Linked DNA regions of Homo sapiens. The protein of the gene in region 1 purifies or fractionates together with the protein of each later gene. This does not show direct contact. Each region holds a gene or a part of one and is shown in the gene's direction. Other genes may lie near its edges.

Region 1 (3,647 bases):
GGGGGATATGTCCCTAGGATTCCTCCACTTAGCGCCACTGGGCCCTCCCACTCCTGCCATCTCAAGTGACCATCGACCTTACCCACGGCTGCTGCACCTCACCCTGCTCTGGTGCACATTCCCCACTGCAGCATTTGCACGTGGACAGCTGTTCCCGGGTGGCTGTTTCCAGATCTTCACCACAGGCTGCCTCTGGCTGTTGTGGGCACCAGAGTGGGACAGGGTGTTTTAGACAGGGCACCACTGCCCCCTCTCTTGTACTGCAAGTGTGAGGAGGTGGAGGTTGAGGGCACTGCTGTGAGGCTGCTGCCCACTGCCTGGGCCCTCAGCCGTGTGTGCTTTGCCAGAGTTGAGCTCCATCCCGGGTTCCAGTAGCAAGTAGAGTGTAGAAACACAGAGTAGAAGGAGGTAACACTTATTGTTTTTTCTTGCAGGACTTCTCAAAGCCTAGACATACTAGTATGAACTGTGGATCTCTAAAAGGGGGAGTAGAGCAGGCAGACTTCCCCAAATCATTTAACATAGAACTCCCACCCTTTTAAAGACATCACTATTGACTGGTGTTGCCCAGAGGACACTTGGGAAGTGGGCAGCATGGCATTTGCTAGGTGGCACCAGCCAGGGTTGTATTTATGACAGTGCAGTTCCTGCCTGCAGTTGGATCTCTCCATTGTGATGGACTCAGTAACAAAGGCATTAGGGAGTGGCTGTGACCCCAGAGAACCCCTGGCCCACCTTCTGCACTTGCTAATGAAGCTTTGGCAGGTTACCTGTTTTCAATATGTTGTCAGTGACTGAGCTGGGAGTGGAGTCCAGAGTTCTGGGCTAAGGGGTCTTAGGAAAATGTCTGTGGGCAGCCCCAGGACATCCTTCCTGAGTTGCAGTTCAGCTGCCATCACAGTACTTCAGCCCCCTCCAGCATCTAGGGGCTGGCTCTGCTTCTTATCTTGATTTCTCTCCCTCTGCAGGGGGATGCGGGTGTCACTGGCCGTAAGATTATTGTGGACACCTATGGCGGCTGGGGGGCTCATGGTGGTGGGGCCTTCTCTGGGAAGGACTACACCAAGGTAGACCGCTCAGCTGCATATGCTGCCCGCTGGGTGGCCAAGTCTCTGGTGAAAGCAGGGCTCTGCCGGAGAGTGCTTGTCCAGGTAAGCCCCCTCCACCCACCACCGTCCTGTTGCAGTGGAGGACCCCTGCCCAGTTCTGCCCTGAGTGAGGGGATGTTGGCCCGGTGGGAAAGCTGCATGCTTTGCCAAAGGTTGTGATTGTGTGATTGTGTTGGGCACTGTGGCCAGGGCTCTGAAAACCTAGGGGAGGGAAAACCAGAATCTTCAGGGAGAGAGGCGTGTAGAAGAACTGCCCTCGGTGAAGATAGCAGGAAAATTGCAGGGGAGCATGTGGGGCAAGAGGCATGTGGTCCCCGCTGGTCCCTTCAGAAGAAGGGCAAAGCTTCTGAAAGGGGCAGGGCCCACACAGAGGCTTCAATCCCTGACGCTGCACCTTGCTGGAAGGTTTCCTATGCCATTGGTGTGGCCGAGCCGCTGTCCATTTCCATCTTCACCTACGGAACCTCTCAGAAGACAGAGCGAGAGCTGCTGGATGTGGTGCATAAGAACTTCGACCTCCGGCCGGGCGTCATTGTCAGGTAAAGTGCCATGCGCTGCTATTACACAGGACCTTGCTCCTTCCTTGCCCAGATGCTCACCTCACCTGAAAGGGAGGCAGAAAGGAGGATGTTTCTGCCTCTCAGAAGTGGGAGGGTCTGTGAGCTCTTGGTACAGCACAGTGCATCCCCAGTGCAGAAAGCCTGGTTGTCAGGTTAAAGGAGGCTGCCCCAGGTTCCTGCTGGCCCAGTCAACACCAACTCCAGTGGGGCCATCTCTGAGCAACTGGGAGGCAGGCGGGGATCTTAGGAAAATAATTATTAATATAAGGCCAAATAGCTCAAATGGCTGGGAATCAAGTCAGCAAGTCTATTCCGTTTCTAGAGCTTAGTGGTGTCAACATTGGCCTGGGCCAGGTAAGTGGAGTGGGAGGAGAAAAGCACCGGAAGGCTGGAGTTAGATCCTGGTCCCTGAACCTCTAAGCATCCGTGGGGCTATAAAACGAGACCAGGGTATGGCACAGATAGGATGGGTGCGCGCAACTGCGGTGGGGAGGCGTAGTGCCATGCGAGGAGGGCTGTGTTACAGTTCGTTGCTCCCTCCTGTCCTTGAAATGGAGAAAGAAACCCTGCTCCTGTTCCATCTTCCAATGCCCTTCCTTTCTGCTGGACATGCAGGGATTTGGACTTGAAGAAGCCCATCTACCAGAAGACAGCATGCTACGGCCATTTCGGAAGAAGCGAGTTCCCATGGGAGGTTCCCAGGAAGCTTGTATTTTAGAGCCAGGGGGAGCTGGGCCTGGTCTCACCCTGGAGGCACCTGGTGGCCATGCTCCTCTTCCCCAGACGCCTGGCTGCTGATCGCCTTCCCCACCCACCAACCCTCAGGGCAAAGCCAGGTCCCTCTCATTTAGCCTGTCCTGTCATCATCATGGCCAGCTGGAGGCAGGGGCTTCCTGGTGCTGGAGGTTGGATCTTGATGTAAGGATGGGCATGGTGTTCTCCTGCTGCTCCCTCAGACTGGGGCAATGTTAATTTAGTGGAAAAGGCACCCCCGTCAAGAGTGAATTCCCTCACTCGTCTCCCCCAACAGCTGGACCCTGACCAGCTCCCCCTCCCTCCCCTTGCCTGTGCCAGGTGAGGTCAGCACATCTCAACAGGCCTCAGGGCTCCTTGTGGGCCTGGGCTCCTGGACCCCCCTTTCACAGGCAGCCAGTGCCCTGAGCCAGGGTCTCCAGAAAGCCCCACCCAGGCCAGGCATGTGGCAGGGGTTAGAGCAGGACTGATGTCTCCTAAGCACCTGTAATGTGCGAGGGACCCAGCTAATAACTGATCTCGTTTTTTCTTCACTGCAACATGATGAGGTAGTACCTTTTATATCCCATTTATAGATGGGGGAAAGCAAAGCACAGAGAGTCTGGATAACTTCCACAGGGTCCCACAGCCACGTGTTTAGACCTAGATGTATAACTAGGAGCTTTGACTCAGGAGCCTGTGACATACCCCCTCCCCCACCGTTGTCTCATGCCAGTAACAGGCTCAAACAATGACAAAGCAGATTCAGAAATGAGGCCATGGACTCTGTCCTGAAGGCCTGAGGTTACTGGAAATTAGGGGATTAACCCACTAGCTCTTGTTGAGCCGTGGGCAATTGTCTGAAAAGTGAAGACAGAACCACAGGGCTATTTTGTTTGCTTCATGTGTCCCAGAAGATGACTGAGGGTGAGTTGGCTTACCTGGCCCATCAGGGTAGGCTGGAGTTAGGGACTGACCAGCAGCTTTAGAATCCCAGCCCCCTGACCACTCAGAGACATGCAGAGATTGGGTTTTTGGACTTCTGGGGTAAGTGGTCTAAGTCCAGTCCAGTCCTATCTGGGCTTCCTGGAGCAGAAGCAGCAACTTGTCCTAGCACAGATGGCCAGCCCCTTAGACAGAGGCCCTCAAGTCTTTCTCTTTCCCTGGTCCCTTGTATCCCCTGCAGGCTGAGTGCATTTGGAGGGAGTGAGTGGCCCTTTCGGATCCAGGGAGGCTGGTCCTATGG
Region 2 (3,647 bases), on another chromosome or scaffold:
GAAGGACGGGCAATAACAGGAGAGCCTGGAGGCTGGGTGGTCACTGGTGTGCAGAGGGAGTTGTCTTGACTTTGTAGGACACAGTTTTAAATCAAATACATGGGCTTCGAGTGGCTGGGGCCATGCCATGGAGGCTGAAAATGCCCTGAAAAGTTGTATTTAACTTGCAAGAGCAGGGTAGGGGACCGGCGCTGTAGATGTGTTTGTGGATGAGCATGTCAGTGTGAGTGGGGATGCTGGAGAACCGGGACATTCCAGGCAGGCTGTGAAGATGGGCTTAGCCCCGAGGCCTGGCCAGGATGGAAGGGGCTAGAATGCCTTGGCGGGGACTTGTCGCTCACTTGGGTGTCGCCTTGTGGGGCAGGGGCAAGGGTTGACAGGAGAGAGGAAGGGAAAGGGATACTGGGGTTTTAGTCTTGGTGGCCCCGGTGCGCCGCCTGTGTGGCTGTCAGAGCTGACTGGCAGTGCCACAGGCACGTGTGTGCCGGGATGAACCCAAGCATCCCTGAGTGCGCCTGCCGGGGAGCTGGGACCACAGGTGAGCCTCAGCTTTGTGAGCCCCCTCCTGCCCTTGGTGGTAGCGGAGCTGATGTCTCTGGATGCAGGGGAACCTGGGGGCTTGTCAAGGAGAGAGGGAGCCAGGCTGGGGTGGAGGGAGCGCAGCTGGGCTTGTGCTGGGGGGCTGGGAACATGGAGGGTAGCAGGCAAGGCAGCTGCAGGAGCAACCTTCCCGCAGGTGGAGCTGAGAGAGGTGATCTGCGGGGCAAGCATCTGCGTGTTGGAGTTGCTAGAGCAGAGTTGACTGAGGAGGGGAGGCGCGGAGGGCAGAGGGTAAGGAGGGAGGTGGGGGTTGGTGCTGCAGCACCTCAGGGAGTCGGGATGGGGATGATTCTTCAGTCAAAGCCATTCCTGAGGAAGGTCAAGTGAGAAGATAGGTCTGGTCTGGGGAGGGTGGTGGGACGGGTGGTCCTCTCAGGATGACAATGTGGGCACCACAGGGGAGGGCGTGGACGGAGACTGTGGTGCCGAGCATGGGCTGGGTGGATGTGTTTGGGCAGAAGGGGGAGACGGTGGGGGGCCAGCAGGGCGCCAGGTGCCCAGGAGGAGGCTGGGCCGGGGAGAGGCACAGGGGCCGGCGGGGGCCCTTGCCACTCCGTCCTGAGCAACCCGTTTTGTGGCCAGGTGGTGCTGGCCATGCCCTACGACACCCCAGTGCCCGGCTACAAGAACAACACCGTCAACACCATGCGGCTGTGGTCCGCCAAGGCTCCCAACGACTTCAAGCTGCAGGACTGTACGTTCCGTGGTTCTTGGCACCCTTGTGTCCATGTGGGTGGCTGGTCCCAGACACCCTCGCCCACAGCCTTTACCGCGCCCTGTGGCTCACTGTCCTGGAGGCCGCGCGGCCCTCCTCTAGGGTGTCCCTGCGTCCCAGTGAAGAGCGAGGCTGGTGCAGCTTACCTGTGTGTGGGGCCTGCCCGGGAAGGGCCTACAGGCAGAGCGACCAAGACACCTGGGCCCTGGGCACCCAGGGTCACCTTGTGCAGATCATGTGCCCCTGGGGAGGAGTGAGGGGGATGGAGTTGTGTGCGGTACATAGGGGAGCTGCAGGAGGGATCACGTTTACCTCCAGGGATGGGGGTGAGGGGAAGTAATGCAGCGGCTGGGGGAGTCCTGTGCTCGAGCGAGTTTCCTTGGCCTTTGCAAGTAGGCCCCTGAGCGGTTGCAGTGCTGGTGCCAGGAGGCATGTGTGTGTTGACCCCGCTCCATTTCTTCTTAGTCAACGTGGGAGACTACATCGAGGCGGTCCTGGACCGGAACTTGGCTGAGAACATCTCCAGGGTCCTGTATCCAAATGATAACGTGAGTAGCTGGCCTGGGCACTCTTGCTCAGGCCGTATCGCTTTCTGGCATAGAGAGGTGGGCTGGCTGGCCGGGCTCCCCAGTGGGGCCTGCTGTTGGCCTTGGCAAGCAGCCACCTGGTGGCCCTCTCGCCTTAGGTGCACACACGATGCCCTTGGGGAGGAGAGGGTGCACTGTCCTCCATAAAGCCCAAGCGGCTCTTCGTGTGCCTCTTGGCAGCTCTGTGGTCCTCTCTCCGAGGACACTCTCTGCCACCTTCCCCTCTTATCCACTCCCCTCATAAACACACAGCCGCTCCTTGGGGCCAGCTGGAGCCCGTCAGCCCTCCAGTCTGTGTGCTGTTCTAGCCTGCAGTGCCACTTCCCCAAGCAGGTGATCTGTCTGTCCAGGGGACCGTAGCGCCTACTTGGCATTGATGCCTGGGGACATTTGAAAGGTCCTTGGCACATGCCCTTCCCATACTAGGTGATGGTGTCGCAGCCATGTTCCCCACTGCCACCTGCATTTAGTGCCCAGTGGCTTTCTTTTTGTTGTTGTTGCCTGACAAGTCCTTAGAAGATGCCCTAGTGGGCAGAGCATGTTTAAAAGTGAGCTTTTTGTTTTATGAAAGTAACCTGTGCACACAGGAGCAAAGGCCTGGGTGCCGGAAGGCTCATCAAAGAGTGCACTCCCCTGTCCCCATGAGACTGTTGGCAGACCCCAAGCCCCAGGTACAGAATGTTCCAGAAGGCCTGTGCTTGGACAGTGCAGCTCCTGAGCAGCGCTGGCACTGTACTTCTGACGGATGGACACTGTGTCCCGGGGTGTGTCCCACAGGCGGGGTTACCTTCCTCAGTGACCTGAGGGCACACAGGCAGGCCCCAGTGTCAGGCAGCTGGGCTGGGCTCCTCTCGGCCTTCTGCCTGCACCTTTGAGCCAGGTCGCTGACCTGGGCTTCCTGGGGGAGGAGAATGGCCCAGCCTGCACCCTCCAGCTTGCTCTGCTGTGTGCAGTTCTTTGAGGGGAAGGAGCTGCGGCTGAAGCAGGAGTACTTCGTGGTGGCCGCCACGCTCCAGGACATCATCCGCCGCTTCAAGTCGTCCAAGTTCGGCTGCCGGGACCCTGTGAGAACCTGTTTCGAGACGTTCCCAGACAAGGTGCATGGTGGCCCTGGGAGGGATCTCAGTGCCAGGGGCTGGGCGCCTTCAGGCTCTTGAGGTTGCTTTCTCATGTCCCAAAAGGGGCTAGAGTGGAATGGTACATGCCCCTTGTCTTGGGGTCTCGTCATTCTGGGCCAGGATCCCACCTGGGCCCTCCCTTCCAGAACAAGGGCCACCGGCCTTGTTAGGAGTCAGGTCAGCAAGGGACATGGTGAAAGGCTCCTGTGCAAAGTCAGATGTGCTGGGCAGGCTAAATGGGGTTATTCCAAACAAAGCCCTATAGTTCCAGTGAGAGAGCCCCCAGCCCCGGTGGCCACGGCTCCTCCCCTCCGGCTGCAGCACATACCCGCAGCAGAGCACACAGCTGTAGGGCACTCACCAGCAGGCACATCGGGCACAGCGCACACCTGCCACAGTGCGAGCCCGACTGTCCTCCCTGCTCCCTCCACAGAACCCCTCCCTGTTCTCCAGGCTTCTCGGGGGTGGGGTGGGCTGGGCTGGCTCCTTCACTTGGGGAGCTTCGTATGCCAACAACCGTGGGTGCCCACGTGGGATGAAATGACTGAATGGCACCCCTTGTGCGACCTTCAGGTGGCCATCCAGCTGAACGACACCCACCCCGCCCTCTCCATCCCTGAGCTCATG
Region 3 (3,647 bases), on another chromosome or scaffold:
CCAAGCCAGAACAGTGGGTAAAGCCAATGGCTGTAGCAGGAGCCAATCAGTACACCTTTCATCTCGAGGCTACTGAGAACCCAGGGGCTTTGATTAAAGACATTCGGGAGAATGGGATGAAGGTAAGAAATCGTGATGAGAGTGTTTTGTAACATTCACTCTCAGTTGGGAAGATTTGCGGGAAACAGGAAATTTTCTCTTTTTTTGATACAGTCTTGCTCTGTCACCCAGGCTGAAGTGCAGTGGCACAGTCAGGGCCCATTGCAGGTAAAGAATACCTTACTTAAGCAGCTGTTCTTCAGCTATGATGCCAGGATTTAACTTCTTTGTCACATAGCATTTATGTATTCCACTAAAGTTTTCTGAAAGCTACTGCTTGTTGAAAATACTTACATTTAATAGTCTTGTTAACTTTTAAAAAATAAGAACAGATATTTCTACTGGGCCTGCTATGCCACAATAATATAATACAGAAGTAATTGTAAATGTGATATAGCATATTTGTGTCTGTTACAGGTTGGCCTTGCCATCAAACCAGGAACCTCAGTTGAGTATTTGGCACCATGGGCTAATCAGATAGATATGGCCTTGGTTATGACAGTGGAACCGGGGTTTGGAGGGCAGAAATTCATGGAAGATATGATGCCAAAGGTAAAAGAAGTATTTGATTTTGGGGTGAGGCTTTTACAGTGTGTTCATTCAGTAAGCATTTATTGAAAGGCTTGTATATTTAGGCATAACCTGTTCTGAAGGTGAGGAGATGGGGATGCTTACAGATCATTCTAATACAGTATAATAAATGCTGTAATAGATTTCTGATTTGGAAATCAGAGAAGTATTACATCTTTATCTTGAAATTTTCTCTTTCTTTGAGACAAAGTCTTGCTCTGTCACCTGGGCTGGAATGCAGTAATTCAATTAGGGTTCATTGCAGCCTTGACCTCCTGGACTCAAGAGATCCTCCTGCCTCGGCCCCCTGAGTAGCTAGGACTACAGGTGCATACCACCATGCCCGGCTAATTCTTACACATTTTAGTAGAGAGGAGGTCTCACTACGTACCCAGGCTGGTCTTGAACTCCTGGGCTTAAGCTGTCCTCCCACCTTGGTCTGCCAAAGTGTTGGGATTACAGGTGGCAGCCAACCACGCCTGGAAGTCTTGAAATTTCCTTTTGAAACTATTATCTCTAACTTTTAGATCTCTTGGAAGTTGTCATTGACTATTGAGGATTTGTCTGTCTTGTTTACATGACAGTCTCTGCAAAGACAATACAGATTGCTGTTTGCCAAATAGAACAAAGCTTGCTATTAAAAACCAAGTGTTCCCCAGTAATATGTTGTATTGGTATAGTTATTGTGTGAGACAATTGGAGTTTTAATTGCTAATATTTGCTGTTGGATTTTTTTGTTTGATTGTCCCCCACCCCCACCCCCACCAACATACCCACTTTAGGAGTTACTTATTTCCTCATGTATATATCTAGGTTCACTGGTTGAGGACCCAGTTCCCATCTTTGGATATAGAGGTCGATGGTGGAGTAGGTCCTGACACTGTCCATAAATGTGCAGAGGTGAGATTGCTCTTCAACTATGACTAGACCAATTTCCCGTCAAATATGTCTCCAGGACATTGTCTCATGGGCCAGCGATTCCCTCTGTGGTTCCTAAGTTGACTTTCTTTCTTGGAAAAGTATTTTTTGTTCACATGTACAACTAGGAAAATAAACAGCCATAAGTGGATATGCTTTTTTTTTTTTTTTTTTTTTTTCTTTTTCTGAGACAGTCTCTCTTTGTGGCCCAGATTGGAGTGCAGTGGCGTGATCTCTGCTCACTGCAATCTCTGCCTGCCGGGTTCAAGCGATTCTCCTGCCTCAGCCTCCTGAGTAGCTGGGATTACAGGTACCTGCCACCATGCTTGGCTAATTTTTTTATTTTTAGTAGAGACAGGGTTTCACTATGTTGGCCAGGCTGGTCTCAAACTCCTGACCTCAAGTGACCTGCCTGCCTCGGCCTCCCAAAGTGTTGGGATTACAGATGTGAGCCATGGCGTCTGGCCCGTAAGTGGATATTCTAAAATCACATAAATTGTTAAAATTGTAAATCCTGGTTTTCTCAGGAAGGCTGAAGAAAGTTCTTTTTTATAAAAGAATATGTTGAATTTCAGCCCTTTGGAAGATCATTAAGTTTCACGGCCTTGGAAGTGAGAAATTTTTCCAAAATACGGAATTAAAAGGTACTACCAAGGGGGGAAAATAGATAAATCTAATTGACCTAATTATTACATTATTCTTTAGAACCTACATATTATTTAGTTGTTCCTTGTAAGAACTTGCTAGAACCATTTTTGATGAAAATCTAGGCCTGATACCTCTTTGGCTATCTGTATAGAAGTAAAAACTTTTTTTTACTTTTTTTTTTTTTTCAGATAGCTAGTCTAGCATAGTCAGGCTCCTGAGGATGCCAGCCCTTCTGGTAGCACTGCAAGTGATTAAAGCTTACATGACTGCTTTTCTTCCACAGTGTGATGTATCTACTTCCAGGTTCTTGTATAACTGCCACACGTTTCTGCTTGATATATACCTATCAAAAGCTTGACAGTAGTAAATACTTATGCAGGAGGGGCTGGCCAGATGATGAGTGAGCTCATATCCTTTTGATCGCTTGTGGAATTGCTTTGTACTAAACTGTGCTTTGCCAGTATACTATTCCTGCTTTTATGCCAGAGGTAGCAAATTTTTTGTGTGAAAAATCAGACCTTGGCGATGACCTTAAACAGCAGGATATGAAGAACTCCCACAAGCTTAGCGTTCCAATAATGGAACACTAGGCATAAATGGGTTAACTGAAGAGAATATTTGCAGTGTTAACCCTATAAAACTCACCTTTATAATTTCTGTGAGGAATATTGTTAGAAATGTTGTCATACATGAAGTGACACTATCTGTCTGGAAAAATTTTCCTCAGCCTGTGGTTCTCCCACTTCTCCCTCTTTGTTCTAGCAATGAATCACAAAACAGATTGGGTTTCCATCCTTGAATCAGATCCTAGGAAGATCAGAGTTAAATTTGGACCCAATTTTTTAGCTTTTCTTTTTCAATTTCTTTGCTTCCATATTTAAATGTATCTTAAAAACTTTTTTAAAGCCACTTCAAAACCATTCTGAAATGCAATGAAGTATAAAGAGACATTCTATTTTTTGACACAAAAACGAGAACTCACTTAATTTTGCCGTAGTTTATGGATAATTTTACATTTTTAGCAATAATTGTCCTTTCACACTCACAAATTCATATAAATATAATTCAAAGAATAAAAGTGTTTTTTTAGTAACTGTAGAGGCATTGGTGCATATTGGGAAAAACCTTAGTGGACTTGAGGAGTAAAGGCTTTTAAACCTTATCTAAAGGTCGCAAAGATACCATGTAGATTATTAAGAGTTGGTTTACCAGAAAGGTCAATGATTTCTTAGACACATTTAAAAATAGTCTGACATCCTCATCTGTGAACATTTTAAATTTTTCTTATTGAACTAGATTGCTTAAGTCTGCTTAATCTCAAAGTGGCTCTCATATGATTGAAATGTTGACAGATGCAAGGGTAGACACTCTAGTCCAGGAATTCTGTTTTAGGTTTTTCTACATTTTCCTTT

The links.
Region 2: the proteins of MAT1A (region 1) and PYGB fractionate together in Homo sapiens (co-fractionation; one large-scale study listed by BioGRID). This does not show direct contact.
Region 3: the proteins of MAT1A (region 1) and RPE fractionate together in Homo sapiens (co-fractionation; one large-scale study listed by BioGRID). This does not show direct contact.

Annotation. Positions count from the first base shown.
Region 1 is NC_000010.11:80,272,521-80,276,167, reverse strand, and holds part of MAT1A (S-adenosylmethionine synthase), read left to right. Parts: intron 1-968; coding exon 969-1,151; intron 1,152-1,514; coding exon 1,515-1,648; intron 1,649-2,284; coding exon 2,285-2,387; 3' UTR 2,388-3,647. UniProt on the Homo sapiens protein: Catalyzes the formation of S-adenosylmethionine from methionine and ATP. The reaction comprises two steps that are both catalyzed by the same enzyme: formation of S-adenosylmethionine (AdoMet) and triphosphate, and subsequent hydrolysis of the triphosphate.
Region 2 is NC_000020.11:25,275,464-25,279,110, forward strand, and holds part of PYGB (glycogen phosphorylase, brain form), read left to right. Parts: intron 1-1,182; coding exon 1,183-1,294; intron 1,295-1,780; coding exon 1,781-1,863; intron 1,864-2,855; coding exon 2,856-2,999; intron 3,000-3,593; coding exon 3,594-3,647. UniProt on the Homo sapiens protein: Glycogen phosphorylase that regulates glycogen mobilization. Phosphorylase is an important allosteric enzyme in carbohydrate metabolism. Enzymes from different sources differ in their regulatory mechanisms and in their natural substrates.
Region 3 is NC_000002.12:210,015,991-210,019,637, forward strand, and holds part of RPE (ribulose-phosphate 3-epimerase), read left to right. Parts: coding exon 1-122; intron 123-213; coding exon of another isoform or gene 214-267; intron 268-516; coding exon 517-651; intron 652-1,482; coding exon 1,483-1,569; intron 1,570-1,799; coding exon of another isoform or gene 1,800-1,897; intron 1,898-2,162; coding exon of another isoform or gene 2,163-2,228; exon of another isoform or gene 2,229-2,231; intron 2,232-3,647. UniProt on the Homo sapiens protein: Catalyzes the reversible epimerization of D-ribulose 5-phosphate to D-xylulose 5-phosphate.